Linked DNA regions of Homo sapiens: region 1 is linked to region 2. The links come from fine-mapping of genetic effects on gene expression. A gene starts in region 2. The other region holds a variant in brackets. All regions are shown on one strand. Distances are between the middles of the regions.

Region 1 (15,807 bases), 51 kb after region 2:
CAAGTAGATAGGAGGAATAATTTCAAGAGATATATTGTACAACATGGTGACTACAGTTAATAACAATGTATTGTATTTTGAAAATCACTGAGAGTAGATTTTAAATGTGTTTTGCTGCAAAGCATAAGTGTATAAGGAAATGTGTATGAGGTATGTTAATTAGCTCAGTGTAGTCATTCCATATTTTAGGTTGATGCATAAGTAATTGCGTTTTTTTTTCTTTGCCATTGAAAGTAATGGCAAAACACTGCAATTACTTTTGCACCAAACTAATACATATTTTAGGCACGTTTGGGGTGGTGTGGTCACAGACTACATATATGTTTTAAAACATCATGTTGTATATGATAAACATGTACAATATTTAGTTGTCAAAAAAGAAAATATAGTAAAATGCTCAGCAATTTTCAAGTATACAATACCTTGTTATTAATAATTATATAATTGTATACAATTTTCAAGTACGCAGTACATTGTGACATTGTTATAGTCACCATGTTGTACAATAGATCTCCTGAACTTATTCCTCTTGTCAAACTGAAATTTTGTATCCTTTGACCAACATCTCCCCAGTCCCTTTCCTCCCACCGTTGCCCCATGGAAACCATTACTCTACACTTTGCTTCTATGAGTTTGACTTTTTAAGATTCTATATATAAATAAAATCATGCAGTTTTGTCTTTTTTAATTTTACTTTTAATTGGTAAATATATATATTTGTGGGGTACAATGTGATGTTTTGATACCTGTATACATTATGGAATGATATAATCAGGCTAATAAACATATCTATCACATACTTATCATTTCTTTGATAAGAAATGGTGAGAACATTTAAAATCTGATATTTTAGTAACTTTGAAATATAGAATACGTTATTATTAACTACAGTCACTATGCTGTGCAAATGGAACACCTGAACTTACTCTTCCTAGCTGAATTTTGTACCCCTTGACTAATATATCTCCCCTTTCCCTGTGTCCCTCCCCACAAGTCTGGTAACCACTATTCTATTTCTATGAGTTGGCATACTGACCTTTCTGGAGGGCTCACCTTAAATTTGAAATAATGACTTCAAGTGCATTATCAAAGAACTCCATCAATGAAGACAAAACTCTATTGCATCCCTAAACTGATCCCACAAAGGGCCCTGTGAGTCAGTTGACCTGTGCATGACATCCTCTCAGGTATTTCCAAAGTCCCCAAGAAGGCTTGAGATTCATGGGCACTGAAAGCAGCTATTTAATTGTATGGGATGCACATTTACTTTTTAGTACCAAAGTTGTCATAAAATGTTATTTTTCTAGAGGCTAAGTGATAGTGCTGTAAAAGTTTTCTTTTGGTGTGTGCTTGCTGTAGGAGGTAATTTCTTATACTTGAACAATGTGACAGGCATAAAATCATGTGAGGCATCCCAAACCTTAACCTCCTTCTGTTTCCTGAACAGTCTTTGCTGCGAGCCTTAGCAAGATGAAGACCTCTATGTGGTTAAAAGGGTGGATTCTTTTTCTTTCCTTGGTTTTTACTACTTCTGGGCTATTGTCAGGTAGATGAGAAACTTGGGTTTATGGTGGTTTGATTGCATGACTGCCAAGGGATGGGGTTTCTAGTCTGGTGTTATTGACAGGATCATTTGTTGCTAATATCCAAGACCAGAGGGTCTCAGTCTGACCAGTTAACTGGTTAATGTCTTTGGAAAACGGTGTTTTTTTCAAGTTCATCACTCTATTTGGTTTATGCCTCATCCTCCTTTTTAACACCTTCCTGAATTCTTTTGAACTATGTTCTTAGCCCATCTCCTTTCCTTGGTTTTCCATTTTAGTGCTCTGATCAAACTTCTACTTTAAATCTTCCTCCCTTTGACACCAAATGTCTGACTGTTCCTCTAAGGCCGTCACAATATTTTGTGATTTGGTGAGGTGTGAGTGATCTCTCTCAGGTAGCTAAAGAAACTCTGGCTAAAGAGAGAACTCAGGTGCCATCAGCATGTTTTCAACCCTTCCTTTGAACCTGGAAAATTATTTTTTTAGGAGACTGCCATGGACTAATTGGAGGATTCATTAATTACTTCCTTTTTGCACTCTCAGACTCATTCAGAAAATACTTGAGTACTCGTGACATGTCAGGTACCATGCTCAGTGCTTGGAATTCAAAAAGGTGTGGCTCCTGTCTTAGGGGAGTTTGCAGTCTAGTAGGGGAGACAGACATTAATTGAATCATCCATATGTAAACTGCTAAGGATCAGAGTACAGGGAAATGTGGACACTTCAACAGGAGGCTTGACCCACTCTGGAAGGACCATTCTCCTTGGGAAATGATGAGTTAAGATCTTCAGCAAAAGCGAGAGTTGAGTTGGTTGATGTGCAGGGGAGTGGATGGGAGGCAAGTGCCAGGCAGTGGGAACAGAAGGTACAAGAGCCCTGAGGTGGGGATGTATGTGAGGTGGTGCAAGATAAAGAGTATGGTGGGATCATGGAGAGAAAGGGGAGCTGCCATGAGATGAGACTTGCTTAGTAGGCAGTGCAGAGAGGGCTGGAGGTGGCAGTGGCGTAAAGACAGGCCATTCTCCTTTAACCTACTTTTTTTTTTCTTTTTCTGTGGTAGAGTCTTGCTCTGTCGTGCCCAGGCTAGAGTGCAGTGGTGCGATCTGGGCTCACTGCAACCTCCGCCTCCTGGGTTCAAGTGATTCTTCCATCTCAGCCTCCTGAGTGGCTGGGATTACAGGTGCCTGTCACCACACCTGGCTAATTTTTTTGTACTTTTATTAGAGACTGGGTTTCACCATGTTGGCCAGGCTGGTCTTGAACTCCTGCCTCAGGTGATCCATCCACCTCGGCCTCCTAAAATGCTGGGATTACAAGCATGAGCCACCTTGCCAGGCACCTTTAGCTTTTGACAATGGTGCACCTTGTCAATAACAATGACACATTTGCCTAGTGTCTGGCCCACTAATTGTGATTTTGTGATCCTATTGCTAGTGTTCCTCAAAGTGTGGTCAGTGGAGCATCTAGTTTGAGTGGTGGCAGAGAATACTTACAGGCCATAAAAAGGAGAAAACAAACAAACAAACTCAGGTTGTAGAACCAGGAGAAATAACAGGATAAACTCTAAAAGAATTGCCTAATTGGCATCTCCACTGAGAAGTAGCAGGCATCTTAAGAATTTGAGAGCTGAGGCCAGGCGTGGTGGCTCACGCCTGTAATCCCAGCCTTTGGGAGGCCACGGCGGGCAGATCACTCAAGGTCAAAAGATCGAGACAATCCTGGCCAACATGGTGAAACCCTGTCTCTACTAAAAATGCAAAAATTAACTGGATGTGGTGGCACACACCTGTAGTCCCAGCTACTCAGGAGGCTGAGGCAGCAGAATCGCTTGAACCCAGGAGGCGGAGGTTGCAGTGAACCGAGATCACGCCACTGCACTTTAGCCTGGCGTCAGAGCAAGACTCTGTCTCAAAAAAAAAAGTTCAGAACTGACTGAATTTATAATTTTGTCCCCAGCCCCAGCCTGCTCCCCTCCTGGATCCCCTCCTGGCTCCCCTCCTGTATCTCAGTACACGGCAGCTGTTTTCATCTCTACACCATATTCAGTCTGGCAGAAAGTTCTGTGGCTTCTACCACTACTAACTTGTGACAGGCTGCTGTATTTCTCAGATAATTGCAGCTGTTGCCTAACTGGTATTTTTTCCTTGGTCCTTGAGAATCTATTAAATATTCTCAAGACAGCAGCCAGAGCCATTCTGTTAATACCCAGTGTATTTATTTTCCAAATCTGCTGTAACAAAGCACCACAAATTGGGGGGCTTAAAACAACACAGGGTGCTTAAAAAAACTGGGGGGCTTATTCTTTCACAGTTCTGAAGGCTAGAAGTCCAAAATAAAGGTGTCAGCAGGGCCATGATTCCCCTGAGAATCTTAGCAGAGTCCTTTCTTCCTTCTTCCTAATTTCCAATTGTTCCTCCAATCCTTGGCTTCCTTACCCTGCAGCCATATCACTGCAATCTCTGCCACTTATCACATAGTGCTTTCCTTTGTGTGTCTGCGTCTTCATGAGGCTGTGCTCCTTCTTCTTATAAGGGCATCAGTTACATTGGATTAAGTGCCCACCCTACTCCTGCATGACCTCATCTTAACTAATCACATAGGCAATGACCCTATTTCCAAACAAGGTCATATTCTAAAGTACTAGGGGTTAGGACTTCAATATATCTTTTTGGGAGACACAATTCAATCTATAATACCAAGTTAGATCATGGCATCCTCTGCAGAAGACCCCTCATTCTATATCTATCCAGGTCACAGTAAAAGTCATATGGTCTTTATTATGGCCCACAAAGCCCTAGCACTCTGTATTGTCTCCCAGGGAAGAGGGCTAGAAAGTGCCATCCCTTATCTACCTTGCTGCTCCATCCTCCTAACTCAACTTTAATTACCTGATGTCCTTGCCATTCATTGAATGCATGCTCCTGCCTTAGAACCTTTGCATCTGATGTTCCTTCTGCCTGGAATTCTCCTTGGCCCTCTGTATTAGTCTGTTTTCATGCTGCTGATAAATACATACCTGAGACTGGGCAATTTACAAAAGAAAGAGGTTTAATAGACTTACAGTTCCACGTGTGTGGGGAGGCCTCACAATCATGTCAGAATGTGAAAGGCACATCGTTTTTTTTTTTTTTTTTTGAGATGGAGTCTCGCTCTGTCCCCCAGGCTGGAGTGCAGTGGCGCGATCTCGGCTCACTGCAAGCTCCGCCTCCCGGGTTCACGCCATTCTCCTGCTTCAGCCTCCTGAGTAGCTGGGACTACAGGCGCCCGCCACCACACCCGGCTAAGTTTTTTTGTATTTTTTAGTAGAGATGGGGTTTCACCGTGTTAGCCAGGATGGTCTCGATCTCCTGACCTTGTGATCCACCCGCCTCGGCTTCCCAAAGTGCTGGGATTACAGGCTTGAGCCACCGCGCTCGGCCAAGGCACATCTAACATGGCAGCAGACAAGAGTTTGTGCAGGAAACTCCCGTTTCTAAAACCATCAGATCTCATGAGTCTTATTTACTATAATGAGAACAGCATGAGAAAGACCCTCTCCCATGATTCACTTACCTCCCACCAGGTTCCTTCCATGACACTTGGAAATTCTGGGAGTTACAATTCAAGATGAGATTTGGGTGGGGACACAGCCAAACCATATCATTCCACCCCTGGGCCCTCCCAAATCTCATGTCCTCACATTTCAAAACCAATCATGCCTTCCCTACAGTCCTCCAAAGTCTTATCTCATTTCAGTATTAACTCAAAAGTCCACAGTCCAAAGTCTCATTTGAGACAAGGCAAGCCCCTTCTGCCTATGATCCTGTAAAATCTAAAGCAAGTTAGTTACTTCCTAGATACAATGGGGGTACAGGCATTGGGTAAATACAGTCATTCCAAATGGGAGAAATTGGCCAAGACAAAGGAGATATAGGCCCCACGCAAGTCCCAAATCCAACAGGGCAGTCAAATCTTAAAGCTCCAAAATGATCTCCTTTGACTCTATGTCTCAAATCCAGGTCACATTGATGCAAGAGGTGGGCTCCCACAGTATTGGGCAGCTCTGCCTCTGTGGCTTTGCAGGGTACAGCCTCCCTCCTGGCTGCTTTCATGGGCTGGCGTTGAGTATCTGTGGCTTTTCCAGGTACACAGTGCAAGCTGTTGGTGGATCTAACATTCTGGGATCTGTAGGATGGTGGCCTTCTTCTCACAGCTCCACTAGGTGTTGCCCCAGTAGGGACTCTGTGTGGGGGCTCTGACCCCACATTTCCCTTCTGCACTGCCCTAGCAGATGTTCTCTATGAAGACCCTGCTTCTGCAGCAAACTTTTGCCTGGGTAACTAGATGTTTCCACACATCTTCTGAAATGTAGGTGGAAGTTTCCAAATCCCAGTCCTTGACTTCTGTGCACTCACAGGCTCAACACCACATGGAAGCTGCCAAGGCTTGGGGCTTGCATCCTCTGAAGCCATGCCAAAACTCTGCATTCAGCCATGGCTGGAGTGGCTGGGATGCAGGGCACCAAGTCCCTAAACTGCACAGAGCATGGGAACCCTGGGCCCCCAGCCCACAAAACCACTTTTTCCTCCTAGGCCACTGGGCCTGTTATGGCAGGGGCTGTGGTGAAAACCTCTGATATGCCCTAGAGACATTTTCCACATTGTCTTGGGGATTAACACTTGGCTCCTCATTAATTATACATATTTCTGCAGCCGGCTTGAATTTCTCCTCAGAAAATGGGATTTTCTTTTCTATCACATTGTAAGGCTGCAAATTTTCCAAACTTTTATGCTGTGCTTCTGTTATAAAACTGAATGCCTTTAACAGTATGCAAGTCATCTCTTGAATGTTTTGCTGCTAGAAATTTCTTCTGCCAGATACCCTAAATCATCTCTTTCAAGTTCAAAGTTCCACGAATCTCTAGAGCAGGGGCAAAATGCTGCCAGTCTCTTTGCTAAAATGTTAAGAGTCACCTTTGCTCCAGAGTCACCTTTGCTCCAGTTCTCAACAAGTTCCTCATCTCCATCTGAGATCACCTCAGCCTGGAATTCCTTGTCCATATCATTATCAGTATTTTGGTCAAAGCCATTCAGCAAGACTCTAGGGAGTTCCAAACGTTCCCACATTTTCCTGTCTTCTGAGCCCTCCAAACTGTTCCAACCTCTGCCTGTTGCCCAGTTCCAAAGTTGCTTCCACATTTTCAGGTATCTTTTCAGCAGTGCCCCACTCTACTGGTACCAATTAACTGTATAAGCCCATTTCATGCTGCTGATAAAGACATGCCCCAAGACTGGGCAATGTACAAAAGAAAGAGGTTTAATAGACTTACAGTTCCACATGGCTGGGGAGGCCTCACAATCATTGTGGAAGGTGAAAGGCAGGTCTCACATGGTGGCAGGCAAGAGAAGAGATCTTGTGTGGGGAAACTCCCATTTTTAAAACCATCAAATCGCGTGAGACTTATTCACTATCACAAGAACAGCACAGGAAAGACCTGCCCCCATGATTCACTTACCTCTCACCAGGTTCCTCCCACAACATGTGGGAATTACAGTACAAGATAAGATTTGGGTGGGGACACAGCCAACCCATGTCACACCTTTTCCTCTATGATCAGTTCCTTTGACAACTAAAGAACTCTGCTTAAATGAGGCCTTCCCTGACTCAAAAAATTACTTAAAATCCTATCCTCTGTCCTACATTAAACTTTTTACCTGCCTTATTCTTTCACAGTATTTATCACCATCTAATGTGATATATAATTTGCTTATTTTTTATTTTCTGTATTCTTTCCTTATAATGTCACCTACATGAGGTTTCCAGTGCATAGAAGAGAACTGGCACATGATATATTTCATTTACTCTGACATGGACAGTTTTTTACACAGTAAAAAAATCAGAATTCTAGAAAGTTTATAATCAGCTATATATAATGATTGGTCAGTGGACAGGAATGCTGTAGCTGTCATCATTTGCACATGGAGAACTTGGTCTGAAACTTTCTGTTGGCGCCTCTTGGTAAGGTCAGAGAGTGCTGGCATAAAAATTTGAGAAATAAGTACCACCAATTGGCATACAATCTGGAGAGAAGAATGAAGCATTCTTTTAAGAGATATTGCATCACCAATGGTGGTGATGGCTCAAAGAGAGATATATTTGTGGGGAAACAGGAACATTGATGACTGCGATCCAAGAAGTGATTTAGAAGAGTGAGACTCACTGTAAAAATATTTTAGGGTTACTTCAACCAATTAATTTTGTTTATACTTGCTTTTTGTTACACTTGCTTTTGTATACAGCACAAGAGTGATATGATTAAAGATGTCCATAAGAGCTCTTTCAATTTTTATAAAATTCAAAGACTAAGTAGTAAAATGTGCCTGATTCATTGGTAGTTTCTTTAATCCTAAAGATATAAAGTTTCCTTAATCTTCGTATGAAAAATAGTGGTATAGTTAAAGCTTAGATTCAATGAAAAATGGGAGGAGATGCTCAAATATTTGTTAGATGAGTGAATAAAAATTCACCCCAGACTTTTTTTTTCCTTCCAAAGGGCCCTGTGGCTTCCTTCCTCTAAACCCATTAAACAGTGCCATCTGCAGGGAAGGCAGCTCATGACATCATGTTTAAATATTAGAAGA[A/T]CAATAACAAGGTAAAAAAATTGGCAATGCCACCATTCAGCTCTCTGTGAGTATCTCTTAAAACTAGAAGTTTATTCTGACCCATCCATGAGTCAGATCTAAGATAAGCAGTTATTATCTTTAGGCAAGACTGAGTCGGCACATCAGATAGATAAAGGAAAGAGAGAGAAAGAGTTAAAATGTTTGTGCAGCCTATATTTTTCTGGCTAACAGCCACTAGGAAAAGCTGGATTGAGAAAGACCTACATTAACTTTCTTGTGTTCTAGTAACTAAACTTTTAGGCAAAGCCTAAGACTGTCCTGTTTAAACGAACTGTTTCTATCTAATAAGAAATTATAATGATATGGTATGATGGCAAAGCTATTTTAGAGGCCTGGACTCTCCATTAACCACAGCAGTTTAGCAGAGAACAAGGTCTCTGCCACAATCCATTATCCTAAATTAGCACGTGGGTGTTGGAGATGGGGGATGGCATGACAGCTCCATATGAGTATTAGGGGTTAATAAATGGAAAAGGCTGCTGCTGCTAAATCCAGCCCTATAATTACATTTTGGTCTCTGGGTCAGTTCCAGGTCACTAGCATCTCAACTAGCCTAAAACCCATATAATGCTTATTTGTAATTTTAATTTTTAGTTCCGTATTAATGGCATTTTATATGCCCCCAGTCATAATGGAACAAGAGTGAATTTGGGCATCAGAGATGCTGATTTTACTACTGATGGAATCTCAGGCCTACGTGCTGTCTGAATGCTCATGCAGTGGTTGTAGATACTGTACTTTACCTTTTAGATGGTGAGGGTGTTGAAAAGGTATTTTTTTTTCATTTCCATGTAGGTGCTTTTGTGACCATAAAATCAGTTTTACAATTAAAGTGATGCCTACATTCCTGCAGTGCATCTCTTTTCAAGAGCTTTGTTTAATAATCTCTACATGCAATAAAGGAATTGCATCTCTCTCTTTTGTGCCTCTCATGGACTTTCTTCCTTCCCCCGGTGCCCTCTGCTGCATTCTTCCTTCTTTGACTGCCAGTCCTGGTTTCTGACAATGTAACCTTGGCTGGAACTTAGGTGATGATTTTGCTTTCCTTGTTTGGTTGAGTAAACTTGTAACCCCAGGAACATGTGGAAAAAAATAGGTATAAAGTGTGCATGTTGTGTTTATAGGGATGTGGTGAAACATTTTCCAGTCACTATGCTGCTTTATGGGTGCTGTGACTTAAGATGCTTAAGGGGATTTGAGCTACTAAATATCTAAGTTTCAGTTTGTATTTATGAGTGTGATTTAAGTCATTGGGAGAGTTTATTCTAATTAGTAAGTCTGCTTTGTTAGAAATTTGAAACATTTGAGAGAATCAGATATATTAAATATGTAACTATACTTAAAATATCTGAGGATATTGACATTAAATTGCATCAGATGAGTAGGGAAGACATCATTTGTAAACTTGGATTAATTGTACATTAATCAAAGAAAAAGTAAAAAAAGTAATGATTTTAATACTTGAAAAAATAGGATTTATAGGTTGAGATACTTTAAAAAGTTTTACATATGTTTCATCAATATAATACTTATTAGAACAAAATAAAATTAAAATTTTCTTGCACAGAAATGCCTTTAAGATAGTAAAATGTCAGTAACAAATATCACATACTTAAAATTTAGTTCCATAGAAATATGTGATCTGGGAAACTGCAGTTTCTTAACAAGGCTGTGCTTTCTTGGAGAAAATGTATGGAAACAGGACATTGATAGCTAGGAACACCTTCTCCAAAAATGACTGGGTATCTTATGATGCCTTTGGGAAAAGGCATCTACTGAGGTGGTCATATGATTATTCTTTTTTATTCGGTTTATATTCACTAGAAATTGTAATTTTCACTGGATATTGAAGCCTAGATTGTTATTTTTTAAGTCAGCATTTTGAACATGAATTTTTGTCTACTGTTCTCCCTATTTCCTTCTGATACATCAGCCTTCATTCTTATTACTCTCCAATTGTAATGTGTCTATATTAGTCTGTTCTCACACTACTATAAATACATATCTGAAACTGGTTACTTATAAAGAAAAGAAGTTCTGCAGGCAGTACAGGAAATATGGCTGGGAGGCATCAGGAAACTTACAATCATGGCAGAAGGCGAAGGGGAAGCAAGCATGTCTTACATGGTGGGAGCAGGAGAAAGAAAGAGTGAAGGGGGAGGTGCTACACACCTTTAAACAACCAGATCTTGTGAGAACTCACTCACTATCATGAAAGCAGCAAGGGGGAAATACATTACCATGATTGAATCACCTCCCCACCAGGCCCCTCCTCCAGCACTGGGGATTACAATTTGACATGAGTTTGGGAGGGCCACAAATCCAAGCCATATCAGTGTCTTTTTAAAAAAAGCTTGGGAATCTTTTTATATTTCTTGTTTGCAGCAGGAAAATTGTCTTTGCACTGGCACTTTAGTTGCACCTTGTATAGGCATTGCATTTCTCCATCAGGTGGGCAGCTTCTGGATGGTCTGGTTTATGATATGACCTGTGGAACTCTTGATCATGTGTCCTGCCCTGCACTTCTTGTTATAAATGAGTCCATTGGTCTGGCATGATGTTATCTGGTATCATGCTGGTGGTGAATTAAATACTCTAAGCCCTTGGATAGTAGTGTTGACTAAGGCCCTGCAGACAAACCTATACCTGGTAGGCATATGATGTGGTCAAATTGTCACCAAGTTGCTGATTGGTCTCTTCCAGTGATATGTGATCTCAGGGACTTAGGGTTATTGTCAGGTTGGACATTTGGTAACAGCGGTAACTCGATTAGTTTTGTTAAGTCAGAACCCATGCTATTAAGCCAGATATAGCCTCCATCCTTGCCACCACAGCTATTCTGTTTGGGTTCTCTTGTGCTAACAATGGCATGGCTAATGACAGAAACTGGCCAATGTCAACTGGCCAAGTCATTTTGTCCACCTATTTGTATAGAAATTCTTCCATGGTGGATGCTCCTTGGTGGATATTAACAAGGGTTATGCTTTCATCTTCATGGTGGGAGATGCAAGACACAATTATTTGTCCTTTACAGGAAATGTCCCAGCATGTCCCAGACCACCGGACACAAAAATTTCAATCTGTTTGGGCCTCTGAAATTTTATAGGGTTTATCTCCTCTCTTTGGAACTCAGGTGTCTTACCAATTCTCCCAATGTACCAGCTACTTCTTGCTTATCCAGCTCAGTTAGTACAATATTGTCAGTATAGTGTGCCACTGTGATATTCCTTGATATGTTCACATGGCCCAGGAATCTTTGGAATATATTATGGGAGGGGGTAGGAGTGTTAATATATCTTTGAGATAACACTATACATGTATAGTGTTGTCTGTTCCAAGTAAATGCAGTTTCTGATTGACCAGATCCAGGCAGCAGCTGCATACTGTGTCCTTGAGTTTGGGGTATCATCTCTAGCAGAAATACTACCCTTGGCACAGAGCATTTAAGAAGGACTGCAGGTTTCAGGTGGGAACTTGTGAGTGTTAGAGCTATGGCTCCAGAAAGGTTTAATTCTTGCTTCAGCACTGGGAACTGAGAAAATGGGTAACCAAAGTATCACTCGATTAGAATCAGGGACAGTAACTAAACTGATAAATGCTTTTTATGAGCATGCAAATTTCTATTTCATACCAACATCCCAACCTAAAAGTTTCCACCAGGCAGATTTGTTTGGAGAGGCAGAGGAAGAGGAGGGAGAGTGGGTAGAGAGAGAGAGTGAGCTTTTACTTGGGCTCACTCTCTTTCTTTCCTCCTGTTATAGCTACACTACTCTGAATGTTGCCAATGCTCTTTCCAATTCCTTTCTTCCCCTTCTCTCTTAAACTCATTTCAATTGGACTTTCACTCCCACCCTGCACCCAAACTGCTTTTTATTAAAATCAGCAATTGCTCTTCACATTGCTTCAGCAATTACTCTCCACATTTGCTAAGTCCAGGGATTGCTTTGCAATCCTCATCTTGCTTTATCTATCAGTAGCACTTGTCTATTTTCACTACTAGTATTCTATCTTGACTTCCAGGCTGCCACACTTTCTTCATTTCCTCCAGTATAACCTCACCGACTTCTTCTTAGTGTTTGCTGGTTCCTGTTCATCTCCCTGACCCCTAACATTAGAAGGCCCCAGAGCTCAGCCTTTAACACTTAATCCAACTTTTACTAAATTATAGACTGTAATGATAGACATCTAATGAGATAAAATAAACTTTATTCATAAACATTGTCTTATATAAAGTTAAAAATGAAGAGAGTGCCTACTAAAAAGGGATTGTGAAAAGGTACCTGGCTATTGGGAGTAAGCCCCCAAAATCTGGCCATAAACTGGCCTCAAAACTGGCCATAAGTAAAATTTCTGCAGCACTGTAACATGTCCATAATGACCCTAATGCACAAGCTGGAAGGTTGTGGGTTTATGGGAATGAGGGCAAGGAACACCTGGCTTGCCCAGGGTGGAAAACTGCTTAAAGGCATTTTTAAGCCACAAACAAAAGCATGAGCAATCTGTGTCTTAAGGGCATGTTCCTGCTGCAATTAATTCAGCCCATCCCTTCATTTCCCATACGGGATACTTTTAGTTAACTTAAAGCTATAGAAACAATGCTAATGACTGGTTTGCTGTTAATAAATATGTGGGTAAATCTCTGTTTAGGGCTCTCAGCTATGAAGGCTGTGAGACCCCTGATTTCCCACTTCACACATCTATATTTCTTTGTGAGTGTCTTTAATTCCTCTAGCGCCACTGGGTTAGGGTCTCCCTGACTAAGCTGGTCTCAGCAAGTGGCGCCTAACATGGGGCTCAAATCCAGGTCGAAGGGTCGCTGGAGTGATGGTTGGAACGGAAGACACCCAAGTACTCTTAAAGCAATCCCCATGGTGAGTAAGAAGGGGAGCTCAGAAGTATCAGGGTAACAATGGGACAGGTTTGGGGTCTGGTTTGTTCCACCTTGGAACTTTTTCACAGTGATGAGGAGAAAGAACAAGAGTATAGCAAAGTAACAGAAGAGGTTACAGAGCATGTTTATTTGCCAGCTAAAGCTAAAGTGGCAAAGGAAGGAGAGGTTCATCCCTACCCTTCTGCACCCCCTCATTATTATTTTGAAGAAAATGACCCCTGAGATCTTTCTTTTCTGGAGGACACTGGGCAAAAAGTAGTTGCCCCAGTGACTGTTTCAGCAGTGCCTCGAGCAACAGCTCTTAGTTCTATTCAGGCAGGAATTCAGCAAGCTAGACAAGAGGGTGACTTAGAGGCTTCACAGTTCCCTGTTAGAATACACCCCCCCAGATTAAGAGGGAAATATTACAGCTGCATTTGAGCCTTTTTCTTTTAAATTACTCAAAGAATTAAAACAAGCTATAAATGAGTATGGACCAGGTTCTCCTTTTGTAATGGGACTGTTAAAGAATGTTACTGTTTCCAGTCGGATGATTCCTACTGACTGGGATGCTCTTACTCAAGCTTGTCTAACTCCTGCTCAGTTCTTACAATTTAAAGCTTGGTGGGCAGATGAAGCTTCCATTCAGGCTGCTTGCAATGCCCAGGACCAACCTCAAATTAATATAACTGCAGACCAACTTTTGGGGGTTGGTGGCTGGGCTAGGTGCACAACTCATCATGCAGGATGATGCCATAGAACAGCTTAGAGGAGTGTGCATTAGAGCTTGGGAAAAAATCACTTCAGGTGGGGAACAATACCCTTCCTTTAGTGCTATAAAACAGGGACCTAGGGAACCACATGTTGATTTTATAGCTTGGTTACAGGAGTCTCTTGAAAAGATGATTGCAGATTTGGCTGCTCAGGATATAGTGTTGCAGTTATTAGCTTTTGACAATGCTAATCCCAATTGCCAGGCTGCTCTGTGACCTATTAGAGGGAAAGCACATTTAGTTGATTATATCAAGGCCTGTGATGGTATCGGAGGTAATCTGCATAAAGCTACTTTGTTGGCACAGGCAATGGCAGGACTGAGAGTGGATAAAGGAAATACTCCATTTCCTGGAGCTTGTTTTAACTGTGGGAAGCATGGTCATACTAAAAAAGAATGTAGAAAAAATCAGCAAGTCAGGCCGCCAGATAGGTGAAAAAAGAAAACTGTTGAGCCTGAGATATGTCCAAAATGTAAAAAAGGAAAACATTGAGCTAGTCAGTATCACTCTAAGTTTGATAAAGAAGGAACCCAATTCAGGAAACGCCATGAGGGGCCCATCCCAGGCCCCATTCTAAACCAGGGCATTTCCATCTCAGGCCATTCCCTCACCCCATAAAATGTCTGTCCCCTGCCACAGCCAGTAGTGCCACAATAGATTTATGCTGCACAAAAGCTGTGAGCCTTCTGCCTGGGGAACCCCTGCAAAAGGTCCCAACAGGAGTCTATGGACCCTTGCCAGCAGGGACTATAGGATTACTTTTAGGAAGGTCTAGTTTAAGTTTAAAAGGTGTACAAATACATACAGGAGTCATTGATTCAGATTGCAATGGGGAAATTCAAATTGTTGTATCTACTTCTGTTCCCTGGAAAGCAGAGCCAGGAGAGTGCATAGCACAGCTCCTGATTGTGCTGTATGTGGGAATGGGAAGAAGTGAAATTAAATGAACAGGAAGATTTGGAAGCACAAATAAACAAGGCAAAGCAGCTTATTGGGTAAATCAAATTACTGATAAATGTCCTACCTGGGAAATAACTATTCAAGGTAAGAAATTTAAAGGTTTGGTAGATACAGGAGTGGACATTTCAATCATTTCTCTACAGCACAGGCCGTCCATGTGGCCAATTCAGCCCACTCAATTTAACATAGTTGGAGTTGGTAAAGCTGCTAAGTATATCAAAGTGGTTATATTTTGCATTGTGAAGGGCCCAACAGACAACCTGGAACTATTCAACCAATTATAACTTCTGTACCTATAAATTTATGGGGAAGAGATTTATTACAACAATGGGGAGCACAAGTTCTAATTCCAGAACAATCATATAGCCCTTAAAGTCAAAATACAATGCATGAAATGAGGTATGTCCCTGCTATGGGACTAGAAAAAAATTTGCAAGGTTTGAAAGAACCGCTTCAAGCAGAAAAACAAAGTTCCCGCCAAAGATTAGGAAATAATTTTTGATGGTGGCCATTGTTAAGCCTCCAGAACCTATACCTTTAAAATGGTTAACAGATAAGCCAATTTGGATAGAATAATGGCTGCTAGGTAAAGAGAAATTGGAGGCTTTAGAGAAATTAGTTGCTGAACAATTAGAAAATGGGCACAGAGCTCCAACATTTTCCCCTTGGAATTCTCCAGTTTTTGTAATTAAGAAAAAAATCAGGTAAATGGAAAATGTTAACTGACTTAAGAGCCATCAATTCAGTTACACAACCTATGGGAGCATTACAGCCAGGATTGCCTTCTCCTGCTATAATTCCAAAAAATTGACCTTTAATAGTCATAGATTTAAAAGACTGTTTCTTTACTATCCCCTTGGCTGAGCAAGACTGTGAATGGTTTGCATTTACAATCCTGCAGTAAACAACCTGCAGCCTGTTAAGTGTTATCATTGGAAAGTGTTGCCGCAGGGCATGTCAAACAGCCCAACAATTTGCCAGACATACGTGGGGCAAGC
Region 2 (15,807 bases):
TACAATTCTGGGTTTCTTTTTTTACACATATTTTGGTCATAAAACACCTATGGATTTGTAGGTGCATACACATGGACAGTATTTCACTTTTACATCTTGGTTGCTCTCATCTTTTCCATCTTTCTCTAATCTTTTAGCCATGTTGGCTGAGGGATTGAGAAAACCTAAGAGGCTGAATCAAATAAACTGTCTTTGTAAGGCTCTCAAGGGTTTCATTAGACTGATTAGAAAATAGTACTTTACAGAGTTGTTGCCCAGTAAACCTCTTTACAAAAGAGGATGAGGCAAGAGACTGGAAGAAGGAAAGATAAGGACACGTTTTCTGGCTTGATACTTGGTGTCTCCTGTGTTCTTTAGCATGGGACCTTTCCTCTCTCATGGGAAAAGAAGTCTGAGAAATCTCACATTCTCCTTACTATCCAGAAATACTACATGGTGATTTGCTTTGAACTTCAATTTGAACTTTGAATTTGGAGAAAGATGAACTTGTATATCTGGATCCATAGAGGCTAAGCACCTATACTAACTGTCTAAAGACTTCTTTATGGATATTAAGGCTGACACAGTGGGAAATTTCTGGTTCATTTCCCAAGGTGAATATACAATCTATTGATTAAAATATTGGACTTTGTCACTGGAGAGGTGGTATTGTTCAAGACTCTCGAGGTATCCAAATTGTCCCAATAAACTAGAGAAAGAGACAGTGTTAAGATAAACGAATTCCATTGCATTTCCCTTTTCTAAAACTTACCCTTTCTAAAATATTTCATGTGGATATTCTCATGCCTTATCCTCATCTTACAAATGGAAAAATTAAGATCAAGAGTTAACATTCATTGTTTATATAACCCAAAGAAGAGCTGGAGCAGAAACCGGGTATTTCTACTATACCACACATCTAGAAAGAAGCTTAAATGCCATCCATCATCCATTCTTCTCAAAAAGAAAATTCCCTTTTGAGGGGACTAGAGCAAAGAGGGTAGAAAATAAAATCCAGGTACTTACTGGTAGAAAAACTCAAAGAGCAAGACCTACTGGTGACCATGTCCTCTGTACCAAGGGAATTGGGCTTAGTAACTCACCTACTGAGAACTGGCTACCAAAATAATAGTTTTTATTTTCAGGAGTGAAGTGGTTGACAACTTCGGCGGTTGAGTAGTTCCCATTGAACAGACACAAGGCCAAAACGTCCAGGCTGAGCTGGTAGTAGTTAGTCAGGGGAGTGCCATTGTGTGCTTCTAGAAAAGAGAAGAAATACCTCCCTTAATCATGGAAGTGGTAATGGCGTATGCATTTTCCATCTATTCCTACTTACTCTATTTTAATTTCTTTACATTTAAGGAAAGGTGGCTAATAGAAGGGGGAGGTCACCCATAGAATCAGAAAACCTGAGAAATGTGAGGGCTTTTAAGGGCCACTAAATTCCGCTCAATTTCTTTCATTTTATAACTGAGGGGACACAGTCTTAAAGAGATTAAGATGCTATCTAGATATTCAGATGGTTACAGAGTTAGGGCCAGAATACAGGTTTTCAACCTCCAAGCCTCTTGCGTTTTCAATAGTAAGGTGTTGAAACTGTAAGTAGAAACCTAGGTTAGAGGCCATCTCAAAGGAAAATGGACTTACTGAAAAATAGAATAAATATTGGGTGGGAACTGAAATAAAAACAGTGCACCTCACTAGTGGCCACCATGGCCGGTTGATTTTTCCCAGTGATAATGTACTCTGGCCACCTTTAGCTCATATACTAGCATTGTATATTTTGGTACTTATGACACTGTATCCTGTATTGTTCAGCTATTTCTGGTGTAATTCATCATTTGACTTAAAGCCAAGCTCCTGGACGATTAGAGAATGGTGACTTGTGTGTGTGCATGTGTGTGTGTGTGTGTATGTGTGTGTGTGTTTCTGCCATCATATGTAAAGTAGTACTTGACATAGGGTCAATGCTCAGCTGAACATATTTAAAAAGAAAATTCAAGATGCATACTGAAAGAGAAAAAGGGAAGTGCCCTCAAAGACATAGTGAGATGAACGGGATGAAGAGAAGGAAAGAGTGGAGGGAAACTTCATATAGTTTTGAATCAGTGGAGGAGAAGACAAGGTAGTCTAGGGTCTCTAAATATTTAATTCTTACCCATATTTTCAATTTCTGCTTGGAATTTATTTTCTAGCTTGTCGATCAGGTGGTAATCATATATTAAGTTTTCCTCAGCGTTACGACATACTCCCAAAGCCAGTATAATCAAGGCAAGCTCTCCCGAGCTTACATCTGACACTGAAAAGAAAAGTATTCAAGCTTAATAAGGTACAGGCTTGTGATTTTTTGGGCCTCCTGATTTCCTTGAGACTTATATTGCCTATCACTTTTTTCTTCTGTTGCGCTCTATACAGTCTTGTGTCGCTTAATGATAGGGATAAATTCTGAGAAACTGGTTGTTAAGCGATTTTGTCATTGTGCAAACATCACAGAGTGTACTTACACAACCTAGATGGTATAGTTGACTACACACCTAGGCTATAGGGTACAGCTTGTTGCTCTCAGGCTAAAAACCAGTATAGCATGTTACTGTCCTGAATACTATAGGCAATTGTAGCCCAATAGTATTTGTGTATCTAAACATATCCAAGCACAGAAAAGGTACAATAAAAATACACTATTAAAATCTTGTGGGACCACCGTCATATATATTCATCATTATGTGATGCATTCCTGTATGAATATTTGATTCCTCTCTTCTTTATCCTCAAAGCAGAGCCTTTTAGAGCAGTACTGTATAAATGCAAACTAAATCTTTGTCTTTTCCATAAAAATCACAGAATCGTTTTGGAATCATACAATCCTTATGAAAGTGAAAAAGAGGAAAAATAGATAAACAACAAGATCTTGGGTTTTTTTTTCTTTGTGGTACCAGCTTGCTAGGATAGTAATTCTTGATTTTTAATGTTCTGCCTTTTAGAGTATCCAAACTCTCAGGATTCTCATAATTCTTATAATAATATTATGAGGTAGGTAAGAGTGGCTTCTTTTCCCCTTATACTAATTAGAAAACTGAGGCTCAGTATTAACATGACTGGTTCAAGGCCCACCCATACCTAGTTCAAATCTGGGTTGTTCCATGGTTGCCTTTCCATCACCAGCTTTCTTAGTTATGATCTGTATTCCCATGTGGTTGTGAACTAAGCTAGCTTATATAACAGCATTAATGGATAAAAATCCATAGCTTTTGTTTGTGGCTTCTTGAAGAAAAGTGGTTTTTAAGACCAAAAGAAGCAAGACCTAGCTCTAGGGTGAATGGCATGGGATTGTATTTTGGGCATGTTTCTGTTACCTCAAGTTTGGTACCATTAGAAGGGATGTAGCAGGGATACTTTGGATGCATAATTTTTTAGGATTAGTTGCAGATAATCTTTAAATAGGTAGATTTTTTTCTAAATCTTCCAGAATATACAGCAACTTACATCTGCTTTTCACATTGTATTTGATTTGTTGGATCATCTTTTGCATCAGGGTTTGGATCTGGATTCCAACAAGTTTGAGGGACAACACAACATTGACAGCGCTGGTTCCCCTGTTATAGTTTGACTGGATCATTGTATTCAACAGAGGTTTTAGGCGGATGTAGTTTTCTTCACTTACCTCTGTGGCAGAGAAGGAAGGAAATAAGAAACACATACTCAGAAAATAGTAAGACTTGCAGCAGGGGTTATATAAAAATATTTAGTAACAGATATGGCACAGACCTAGACCAATCCAGTGGCTGCAGACTGTGTTGGTGGAATAATACAAAGGTGGGTCTTGAACCCACCCCCATGCCAGACATTACTCCTTTAACAACCAACATGAAAATGTTTTAATATTTTAACAACTGGTGCAGACTTATCATTGTGTACTGGCAGACTCCTGCCTGGGAAATCTAGCATCATTCCCTAATTTTGTATATGAAGCTTAGATAGATTGTCCTTAAAGAAACTTCCATAATTGGAGGCTGAGCTGAAACTAGACTACATGTCTTCTGACTCTCAGTAAGCAGGACTTTCTACTTCCTGGATTCAGTTCTTTCCTTCTCCATCTTCTAAATCAACTGGGTTAATGTTGAGAAAATGCAGGTAATAATTCTGTGTTATACTGGTGATTGACCCCAAAACTTCATTGTCTGATTACCCAGCTGGCTGGGCATCGAGATCATTATTTAGCATTATGCAGCCTGTAAAAAACTCTCCAGTTTTAGCCTACAATATGCCCCAATTCCAGAGATGGAGGGAAGTCACATTATACTGTGGAAGTAGGAAAATCCATAGCTCCCAAGGAAATAGAGGAGAATAAAAAGATTTACTATTTATTTAAACACAGGACACTTTGTCAATGTATTTTTCCATAATCTTGAGGAGTAGCCCCAAATCCTACATATCTCCAGATTATCTAATGGATTAGTGGGAGAGTGAGAAGAACATGAGGTTTGGATTCAGATTTTGGCCACATTTTGTGCTCCTTAACTTATGACTGTGGATAATAACTTATGTAACTTGTTTTACTCTTAGTTTTCTCATTTAAAAATTGTGGCTGTTAACACTTACCTTACAGATATTGGACAAGAAACCACCGAATAAACTGTAAAATGCTGCACATACTATTATTTCCAGCTCAACTGGAGTTTTTATCACTATACTTGAGAATCAAGGAAATGTAATTTCTCTTGCCCAGTTTTCTTTACTTTAAAAGAATGAGTCAAGAAGATCTGAATAGAGTGATTGTAGAAAGGTCATGGTTTGTTGCAGACACAATGGAACAATTGTGAGTCAGTTCTCTGAGATTTTGTGGAACCATCCAGCTCAGCAGATTTTCTGGCCCTGAAACAGACTTTTTAGTTCCTGATCAACAACTCAAATCAGCTTCCTTGAGTCTCAAAGATAAATTTAATTATTATCATTATTATTTAAAATGAATTGAAAGCTAAAACCTACATAGCCATTCCCTATTCTTAGGATCCAACAGGGGAAATGTCAAGCCAAGAAGAAAAATCAGAGTCAGAAGAGTCTATGCTTTAGCCTGTATGTATACAAGCCTGTCTTCTGTGGTGTTCTCTTCTTACTGGTTAGAGAGCACAGATAGTACCACCTAGTAATCTTTGGACTGGTTTGAAGCTCAATTTCAGAGTAAAGTCTCACAAAAGAGAATTCATGCACTTGAGAACTGCACCAGACTTCATGAGATAATTTGCTTCAATAGTCTCCCCTCATTATCCTTTATTTATGAATGAAGCTAAAGAAATTCAGAAATGTTGGGTCATTCAATAACTAAGGGATCAAACTAAACCTGAATTTAGTTTTCCCTTCTCTTACTTTAAAGTTCTTTTACAGAACCACACAATCTCTGGGGTCAACACCCATGCAAGAGATGATGGAACTTTATCCCATGTGTCCTGGGAAAGAGTTGAAGGAAGGTGGACATGCAACTTGGAACATCTAAACTCACTCATGACAAGACAGCAGTCATCACTATTTGAAAGAGATTATTATTTTTTTCTATGTAGTTACAAGGGGTTAACCCAAAAATCATGCATTGAATTTCAGGGAAAAAAGATTGCATATCAAGACCAAAAGATAACTTTCCATGATCTAGAAAAGTTTCTGGGAGCATAAATTTTCTGTCATTGAAAAGTCACATGAATAGGGAGTTACTTGGTAGGGATGCTGTGCTAGAGAGGATCTGAGCATAGAAAGAGCAGTTAGGCAAGTGAATACACAATCTATAATTCCTCTTACAACAACATGCATTGTGAGACTTTCCTCACCATCTCCTGCCACCCTTTTCATCATTCATGGAGTCCAACCACATACGAAACTGGAATGGGATCTTTTCTCAGGTAACTCTACATAGAGTCTCTTGTCAACAGTTTTCAGTAGACTATCACTCTAGAGTAATTTTAGCTCAAAGTTTACTCACCACAAATCTCGCATAGTTGGCTTGGAATAAAAGAAAACAGTAAGAGCCCCACTAGGGGCAGCTGGTGTGACTGTCTCATCTCTCCAACAGTGTACCAGAATGTTGATGAATTGGCTGGCTATTTATTAAGTGATGGGCAGAAGGTAATGAGAGCTCCTCCTTCAGGTTGCCTCAGCCTCTTTTCACTCAAGCAAATATTGAGCAATGTCAGGAGGTGTGGTCAAGTGTATTTGTCCATGTGATGTAATAAATAAGGAAGAAGACTTGAAGGATGTGGTTAGGGAGAATAAGGCAATAACTTTCCTTTGTCTCCTGTCCTAAACCTTCGGGTTTCATATCTATTATTTGCCTTCCGTGCAGTGAAGATATATTAGGCAAATGACTGTTTCCTATAATCTTTCCTTTTTTTTCCGTTTCACTTTATGTTTTATGTTTCCTGATAAAGTAGATTTGATCATGCAAACACATACAACATATAAAAATGGAAGTAAAAGAAGACATCCAAATGGGAAGCAGGCATATGAAAAAGTGCTTGAAAAGGTGCTTAACATCATTGATCATCAGATAAATGGAAATCAAAGCTACAATGAGATATCCTCTCATCTCAGCTAAAAATGGCTTTATTCAAAACACAGGCAATAACAAATGCTGGCACGGATGTAGAGAAAAGGGAAGCCTTGTACACTGTTGGTGGGAATGTAAATTAGTACAATCACTATGGAGAACAGTTTGGAGCTTCCTCAAAAAACTAAACATAGAGCTACCATATGATCCAGCAATCCCACTGCTGGCTATATACCCAAAAGAAAGAAGACCAGTATATTGAAGAGATATCTGCACTCCCATGTTTGTTGCAGCACTGTTTACAATAACCAAGATTTGGAAGCAAGCTAAGTGTCTATCAACAGATAAATGAACACAGCAAATGTACATATACACAATGGAGTACTATTCAGCCATATAAAAGAATGAAATCCTGTCAGTTGTGACAAAATGGATGGAACTGGAGATAATTATGTTAAGTGAAATAAGCCAGGCACAGAAAGACATACATTGCATGTTCTCACTTATTTGTGGGATCTAAAAATCAAAACAATTGAATTCATAGAGATAGAGAATGAAAAGATGGTTACTGGGGGCTGGGAAGGCTAGTGGTGGGAAGGAGATGCGGAGGGTTAATGGGTACAAAATATTGGAAAGAATGAATAAGACCTACTATTGGTAGCATAACAGGGTGACTATAGTCAATAATAATTTAATTGTACATTTTAAATAACTAATAGTATAACTGGATTGTTTGTAACGTAAAGGATAAATGCTTGACAGGATGAATACCCCCTTCTCTATGATGTGATTATTACGCATTGCATGCCTGTATCAAAACATTTCATGAGCCCCATAAATATATACACCTACTATGTACCTACAAAAATTGAAATAAAAAAATTTAAAAACGGAAGTAAAAGTTGTAAGTCTGAAATTGAAGCAGGCAGTATTGGAGAACCCAGCACATGAGGGGATCTTTGGCATAGTGGTTTCCAAACTATGATTTTTCTCCTAAGATAGATTCCATGAGAGTTTCCTAACCAAGGAGGAAAACCAGAGAGCTATACATCAAATGTGAATTTCTGCCCTGCCAGGGCAGTTGCTACATGTGAGAAGTGTTGCCTATCACAGTTCTTCTGAGAACTATTAGAGAATACTGTCAGCCTAGCTAAGGATGTCATGACTTAATGAGCCACTATTTGCATTGTACCTCTGTGATGGTTAATTTTCTGTGTCAACTTGACTGGCACCTGAGTGCCCAGATTAAACACTATTTCTCGATGTATCTGTGAGGGTGTTTCCAGATAGGATTAGCATTTTAATTGGTGGACTCTGGAAAGTAGAATGCCGTCTCCAATGTAGGTGTGCATCAATCAATCTATTGAGACCCTGAATAGAATAAAATGGTGAAGGAAGGGGGAATTCACCCTTTTTTTGCTTCCTGCCAGCCTGTTTGAGCTAGGACATCTTATCTTCTCCAGCCCTCAAACTGAGATTTACACCATCGGCTCCCCTGGTTCTTGGGCTTTCAGTTTGGCCTGAATCACTCCACTGACTTTTACTGCATGCAGACAGTAGACTGTGGGACTTCTTAGCCTCCATAAGGGCATGAATCAACTCCTTGGAATAAATCTCTTTCTCTCTCTCACATATTTATATAAAACTTATGTGGAAACCACCATTCTACTCTCTGTTTCCATGTATTTGATAATTTTTAGAATCTACATATAAATGAGATCATAGTATTTGTCTGTGACTTATTTCATTTAGCATGATATTCTTCAGGTTCATCCATGCTGTCTCAAAGGGCACTATTTCCTTCTTTTTTATGGCTGAATACTATTCTATTATATAAATATAAATATATATATACACACACACACATATATGTGTGTGTGTATATAAATCACAATTTTTATCCCTTCATCCATCAACAGATATGTAGGTTGTTTCTATGTCTTTGATATTGTGAATAATGCTGCAATGAACATGGGAGTACATATTTTATATAATATATATTTTTGTTTGTTTGTTTGTTTGTTTGTTTGTTTTTGAGACAGAGTTTCTCTCTTGTCGCCCAAGCTGGAGTGCAATGGTGCAATCTCAGCTCACTGGAAACTCCACCTCCCGGGTCCAAGTGATTTTCCTGCCTCAGCCTCCAGAGTAGCTGGGATTACAGGTATCTGCCACCACACCGGCTAACTTTTCTATTTTTTTTTAGTAGAGACAGGGTTTCAACATGTTGATCAGGCTGGTCTTAAACTCCTGACCTCAGGTGATCCACCCACCTCAGCCTCCCAAAGTGCTGCGATTACAGGCGTGAGCCACCGTGCCCATTCGGGAGTACATATATTTCTTTGAAACACTGCTTTTGCTTCCTTTGGATATGTACCCAGAATTAAGATTGTTGGATCATATTGCAGTTCCATTTATAATTTTTTGAAGAACCACCACACTGTCTTCCATAATGGTTGTGCAAATTTACATTCTGCAAACACAAAGGATTCTCTTTTCTCTACATCCTCATCCATACTTTGTTATCTTTTGTCTTTTTGATAATAGTCACCCTAACAGGTATAAGGTGATGTGATTATTCTGATTTGAATTTCTCTGATGATTAGTGATATTGTGCATGTTTTCTCATGCCTGTTTGCCATTTTTATGTCTTCTTTGGAAAATGTTGAGGTCCTTAGCCCATTTTAAAATCAGGTTATTTGTTTTGTTTTTGTTTTCATTTTGCTATTGAATTGCATGGTTCTTACATATTTTGGATATTAATCTATTTTCAGATATAGGTTCGCAAATATTTTCTCAAATATTCCACAGCAACTTGGATGGAGCTGGAGGCAATTATTCTAAGCAACACAGGAGTAGAAAACCAAAAAAAATATTTTCTCACTTATTATTAACATTATTTCATTCCTTTTAATGGCTCAGTAGTAGAATTCTTCTATACCCAATTTGTTGAGAGTTTTTTTTTATCATGAAAGGATGCTAAATTTTTTTGATTGATTTTTTTTTTTTTGCTTTTTTTTTAATGTGCTGTTGAATTTGGTTTGCTAGTATTTTGTTGAGGATTTTTGCATCTATGTTTATTATGGGTATTGGCCTGTGATTTTTTTTTTTTTTTTGGTAGTGTCCTTATCTGGCTTTGGTATTAGGGTAATACTCATCTTGTAAAATGAGTTTGGAAATATTCTTTCTACAATATTTTGGGACAGTTTGTGAGGAATTGCCATTAATTCTTCTTTAGGTATTTGGTTGAATTCACCAGTGAAACATCTGGTCCTAGGCTTTTCTTTGTAGGGAGGTTTTTGATTGCTGATTCAGTCCCCTTATTTATATTTTTGGTCTGTTCAGATTTTCTATGTCTTCATGATTCATTGTTGGCACATTGTGTGTTTCTAGGAATTTATGCATTTCTTCTAGGTTATCCCATTTGCTGGCATATAATTGTTCATAGTAGTCTCTTATGATTCTTTGTATTTCTGTGATAGCAGTTGTAATGTCTTCACTTCTTTCATTTATAATTTTACTTATTTGAGTTTTCTCTCTTTTTTCTTGGTTAGTCTAGCTAAAGGTTTGTCGATTTTTTTTTATCTTTTCCGAAAACCAACTTTTAGTTTTGTTGATCTTTTCCATTGTTTTTCTATTCTCTATTTTATTTGTTTCTGCTTTGATCTTTGTTGTTTCCTTCTTTCTGATAACTTTGGGTTTAGATTATTCTTTTTCTAGTTCCTTAATGTTTAAACTTAGTTTGTTCATTTGAAATCTTTATTTTTCCTTAATCTAGACATTTATAACTATGAATTTTCCTCTCAGTACTGCTTTTGCTGTATCCTATATGTTTTCAGATATTGAGTTTACCTTTTCATTTGTCTCAAGATACTTTTTACTTCCTCATTAATTTCCTCTTTGGCTCCTTGATTGTTCAGGAGTGAATTATCTAATTTCCATGTATTTGTAAATGTTCCAATTTTTCTCACATTATTGATTTCCAGTTTCATACCATTGGGGTCAGAAAAGATACTTGATATAATTTCAATATTCTTAAATTTGTTAACACTTATTTTGTGACTTAATGTGATCTATCCTGGAGAATGTTTTATATGTGCTTGAGAAGAATGTGTACTCCCCTGCTGTTGGATGGAATGTTCTGTATATGTCTGTTAGGTCCATTTGGTCTAAGTATTGTTCAAATATGGTAGTTCCTTATTGATTTTCTGTCTGGATTATCTATCCATTGTTGAGTGTGGGGTATTAAAGTCACCTCTGTTACTGTTTTGCTGTTTATTTTTCACATTAGTTCTGTTAATATTTGCTTTAAGCACCCAATGTTGGGTACATAAATATTTATAATTTTTATATCTTTTTGATGAATTGGCTCCTTTATCATTATATAATGATTTTCTTTGTCTCTTGTAACAATTTATTTGTCTCTTGTAACCTCGGCCTCCCAAAGTGTAGGGATTACAAGCATGAGGCACCACGCCTGGCCAAGAATCTTGTCTTTTATTCATGCAACCACTCTGTCTTTTGATTGGAGAATTTAATCCATTTAAGTTTCAAGTAATTTTGATAAGTTAGGACTTACCATTGCCATTTTGTGAATTGTTTTCTAACTGTTTTATAGTTCTTTTTTCCTTTTTTTCTTCTATTGCTTTCTTTGTGATTTGATGACTTTGTAGTTGTATGCTTCAATTCCTTTCTCTTGAAGTTTTGTGTATCTATTACATATTTTTCTAAAACTTGTTTTTAACAAGTCATTTCTACTTTGCTGCTTCCAACAGTGATTCTAAATTCTCATTTTACTTGAACTGATAGTTGATTACTCTCTTTTTCTTACTTCATTTGGCTGGAACACCATCCTTTTCTGGAGTTTTTCTACTTTTCTGACTCTTCCTTTTTGGCCTTTTCTTGCTACTTTCTCCTAATATATTTGACTTCTAAATGTTGCAATCTTCTAGGGTTCAGTGTCTAAAACTCTTCATTCTCCTATGTTGCTCTCATTTAATCCCAAGGCTTTAAATGACACCTATATGCTAGTGTTTCTAAAATTTATATCTTCATATAGAACATCTTTCTAAATTTAGATTTAAATTGAGGCCTGGTCATGTGACTGTCTTGGGTCAAGATGTAGTTAGCAAATATGAAAGAGGTAGTTAGCAAATATGAAATAGGTGGAAATTTAAAAATTCCTTCTGCTTTGGGTTTTGTGTTTTGAATTCTGTGATCCACAATGTGTATAAAACTGAGCTCATGTTCTAGTTGTTATAGCTGTGACCTTCTAGAAAGGTCATATAGAGGAGAACTGAAACATGCCAGCTGTAGGCTGCCAACTACCTGACATTGAATGAAATGCCTTTAGATTATTTAGCTTTAGTTGAGCTACCAGATGACTAAAGTCACATGAATAACACTGGCCAAGACCAGTAGAAGTGCCTAGCTAAAGCTAGCCCAAGCTACTACACATAGATTTGTGAGAAAAAGATTGTTTTAAGCCACTAAGTCTTGGGGTAGTTATTTATGTGGCAGTAGAAAAATAATACACTATACTTAGAATTTTTTCCAGTTATATAGTTCAAGCAATATTTTAATCAGCTGACCATCTATTTCATTCCCCGTTACCTCATGTTTTGTTGGATGATGTCATAAATCACTGTGGATCAAAGCACTTCTATTGTCACTCTGATTCTGTAGACAGCTATGGTAATTTCTACAACTTGTCTTTGATGATTAGGTACTGCCATCTAATTTTGGCTAATCTGGAATCACATTATAGTGACTGAGATAATTTCAATGGCTAAATCTTTCACTGTCAATCCCAACAACTTCCCTTTACTAATTCATATGTTAATGTCTAGTTAAGGTTGTATTCTCTGGGCTTTCCAGGAAAGAAAGAGGCCAGGTGAGCTGGAACAGATTTTGTACTTGTCTCCCTGGGGCATAATGGGATCCAATCCTAATGATGGTTCTAGAGGCAATTTAATATTGTACATAGTAAATCTCCTTCTAAATTCTTATCTCTCTTAGCCTTTGGCCACAAATTTCTGGCATCTCACTGAACTGAAGTACATAGTTTAATGGTTTTTAGTGTATTCACAAATATGTGCAAACTATCACCCCATAATCAATGATAAAGCATTTTCATCACCTCAAAAGAAACCTCATACCCATCAGCAGTGACTAATCAGTCCTGCCAGTCTTAGGAAACCACTTATCTACTTTCTGTCCCTATACTTTGCCTTTTCTGGACATTCATATAAATGGAATCATACAATATATGGTCTTTTGTAACTAGTTTTTTCATTCAGCATAATGTTTTCAAGTTTCATCTATGTTGTAGCATGTATCAGAACTTCATTCTTTTTTTTTTTGAGATGGAGTTTCACTCTTGTTGCCTAGGCTTGAGTGCAAGGGTGAGATCTTGGCTCACTGCAATCTCCACCTCCCGGGTTCAAGTGATTCCCCTGCCTCAGCCTCCTGAGTAGCTGGGATTACCGGTGCCCGCTACCACATCCGGCTAATTTTTATATTTTTAGTAGAGACGGGGTTTAGCCATGTTGGCCAGGCTGGTCTTGAACTCCTGACCTCAGGTGATCCACCTGCCTCAGCCTCCCAAAGTGCTGGGATTACAGGTGTGAGCCACCACATCCGGCCCAGAACTTCAGTTTTAATGGCCAAATAATATTCTATTATGTGGATATATAACATTTTATTTATCTATTTGGTAGTAGTCTTTTTTTTTTTGAGACAGGGGCTCCCTCTGTCACCCAGACTAGAGAGCAGCATAAACACCACTTACTGCAGCCTCGACCTCCCAGGCTTAGGTGATCCTCTCACCTTAGCCTCTGAGTAGCTGGGACTACAGGCATGCACCACAGTGCCCAGCTAATTTTTGAATTTTTTGTGGAGATGGAGTTTCACCATGTTGTTCAGGCCGGTCTTGAAACCCTGGGCTCAAGCAATCTGCCCACCTTGGTCTCCCAAAGTGCTGGTGACTAGAGGTGTGAGCACCATACCTGACTCTTTTCAGTAGTTGATGGACATTTATGTTGTTTCTATTTTTTTTTGGCCAATGCTGCTATAAACATTTGTTTACAAGTTTTCTATGGACATTTTCAATTCTCTCCATGTATATTTAGGAGTGGAATTGCTGGGTCTTTTGGTAACATTGTCTCTACCTTCTCTAATGACTAATGATGTTGAACATCTTTTCATGAAATTATTGGATATTTGTATATATCTAATATATATACAAATACACACACACACACACACACACACACACACACACACACGTGTTTTTTTTTTTTTTGAGACAGTCTTGCTCTGTTGCCCGGGCTGGAGTGCAGTGGCACAATCTCAGCTAGCTATAACCTCCACCTCCTGAGTTCAAGCAACTCTCATAACTCAGCCTCCCAAGCAGCTGAGATTACAGGCGTGTGGTACTGCATCCAGCTAATTTTTGTATTTTGTTTTTAGTAGAGACAGGGTTTCGCCATGTTGGCCAGGCTGGTCTTGAACTCCTGGCCTCAAGTGATCTGCATTCCTCATCCTCCCAAAGTACTGGGATTACAGGCATGAGCCACCACACCTGGCATCTTTTTTAAAGAGAAAACTATTCAGAACTAATTGTTTTAATTGGGTTTCCATATATCTTTTTATTAGTGAGCTGTAAGAGTTCTTTATGTATATTCTAGATACCTAATTTGCAAATATTATCCCATTCTGTGGGTTGTATTTTCTACCTGAATTCTTAAAAATCACTGAATATAGTTGATTCTTCCTTCAAATTCTAGATACATTTTCCCCACGTTTTCTGTTGCAATATCATCAACTCTCAGCCCCGTAATTTTTCTCCCAGTTTTTTTTTGACTCCTTCTTTGTACTCATTGCCAATCTTTTTTGAAACTTTAAATGTTGTATGACCTCAGAGCTTTGTACCTATATTATTTCTCATGCTACACACTCTCTCTAGGTGTTCTCACCCACATTCAAACCTTCAAATAGACTAATATTTTCCCAGTTTTCACTTTTATGTTAGATTCTCTTGAGTCTCAACTTATAGCCAAATGCCTTCTCTGTAATTCTACTTGGATGTCTTATTGCAATTTAAAAACCAGCATATCCAAAATTGAATTCTTAGTTTTCCATTGCAAACTTACTTCTTTATCAGTATAGCCATCTTTGCCATTTTAATAGCTCTGTGACCTTCAATAAATCTTTAATTTCTCTAGGTCTCCAAAATGTAGAAAATAGTTCTTATCTCCTAGGTTTTCATGAGGAGTCAATGAGTTAATATATGGAGGGTGCTTAGAGTAGTACCTGGTGCGTAATAAGCAGTACGTAATTGATGGCTATTATTGTCTCACTAATAACCATCAACTCAGTTATACCTGCCCAAAGTCTGGTTGTTATGCCTGATACTTCTGTCTCCTTTGATCACTTAACCAACCAACCAGAGTGACACATTCTACCTTCTGGGACCAGTCTGTCTCACCCTGCCTTCCCTGCCAATAATCTGATCAGCATTTCCAGTTTCTTGCCCTCTCCGAAATAGCTTCCACATTTGTGTGTTACTATTCACTTGTAGCCCTCTCCAAGCCATTCTCCCCCCAGCTCCTACAGCAGCACTTCTCCAACTTGAGTCATATATGGACCACATTTAGAGAAGGAATTCTTGAGGAACACAGTTTGAAATACACTGTCTTAAGACTTTTAATCCAAGACAATGGAAGTTTTGAATTTTCTTTTGCAACAGAGATATGTTGTTATTGTGCTGATGTTTTTAAAAAATATTTTAAAATCCTCATTCCTGGTTAAATCCTTGAAGCCTTCCACTGCATTTCAAATAAAACTCCAGACTTGAAATGTGATCTCTAAGAACAAGTACTTTCTGGCCATTTGTTAGCCACTTTCTTGACATTCTGTACTTTCGTTTGCAGCACTTATGAAAATAGCAATTAATTTTTGCAGAATTATTTCTTAACTGTGTGTATTTAATGTTTGTTTCCCTGCCTGACTGTGAACTCCTCAAAGGCAGCGATACACCTTTCTCGTTCACTATTGTGTCCTCCACGCTACCATAAAAAATGCCTATGATGTAAGAGGTTATCAAAATGTTTGCTGAAAGGAACCTCAGATCCTTAAGCCAAATGACAAATTAATAACACATACCGGTAGATAATCTCATTGGATAAATATTAGAAGGTTTTACAGGAGCAAACTAGGAAAAAAGTAAATGATAGAGGGGCCTTCCATGGAAATCAGGAGTGCCGTGGGGATGTAAACATCTGGGGTTAAAGTCAAAG

What was found. PIP is the estimated chance that this variant, and not a neighbour inherited with it, causes the effect.
Region 1: its variant is fine-mapped to the expression of TCN1 in whole blood (TOPMed, PIP 0.92).

What each region holds. Positions count from the first base shown.
Region 1 is chr11:59,911,079-59,926,885 of GRCh38, forward strand. No RefSeq gene overlaps it. Among named protein-coding and RNA genes, the nearest start is that of OOSP1, 19 kb to the right of the region's middle. RefSeq lists a silencer at 10,391-10,551. The variant A/T (reference allele first, on the strand shown) is at 8,165.
Region 2 is chr11:59,860,445-59,876,251 of GRCh38, forward strand. It overlaps TCN1 (transcobalamin 1), which reads right to left and starts at 6,043. Exons shown (of 9, transcript NM_001062.4): 1 at 5,948-6,043; 2 at 3,463-3,642; 3 at 2,138-2,278; 4 at 1,083-1,238. The coding sequence starts at 6,026. RefSeq lists a silencer at 12,559-12,759.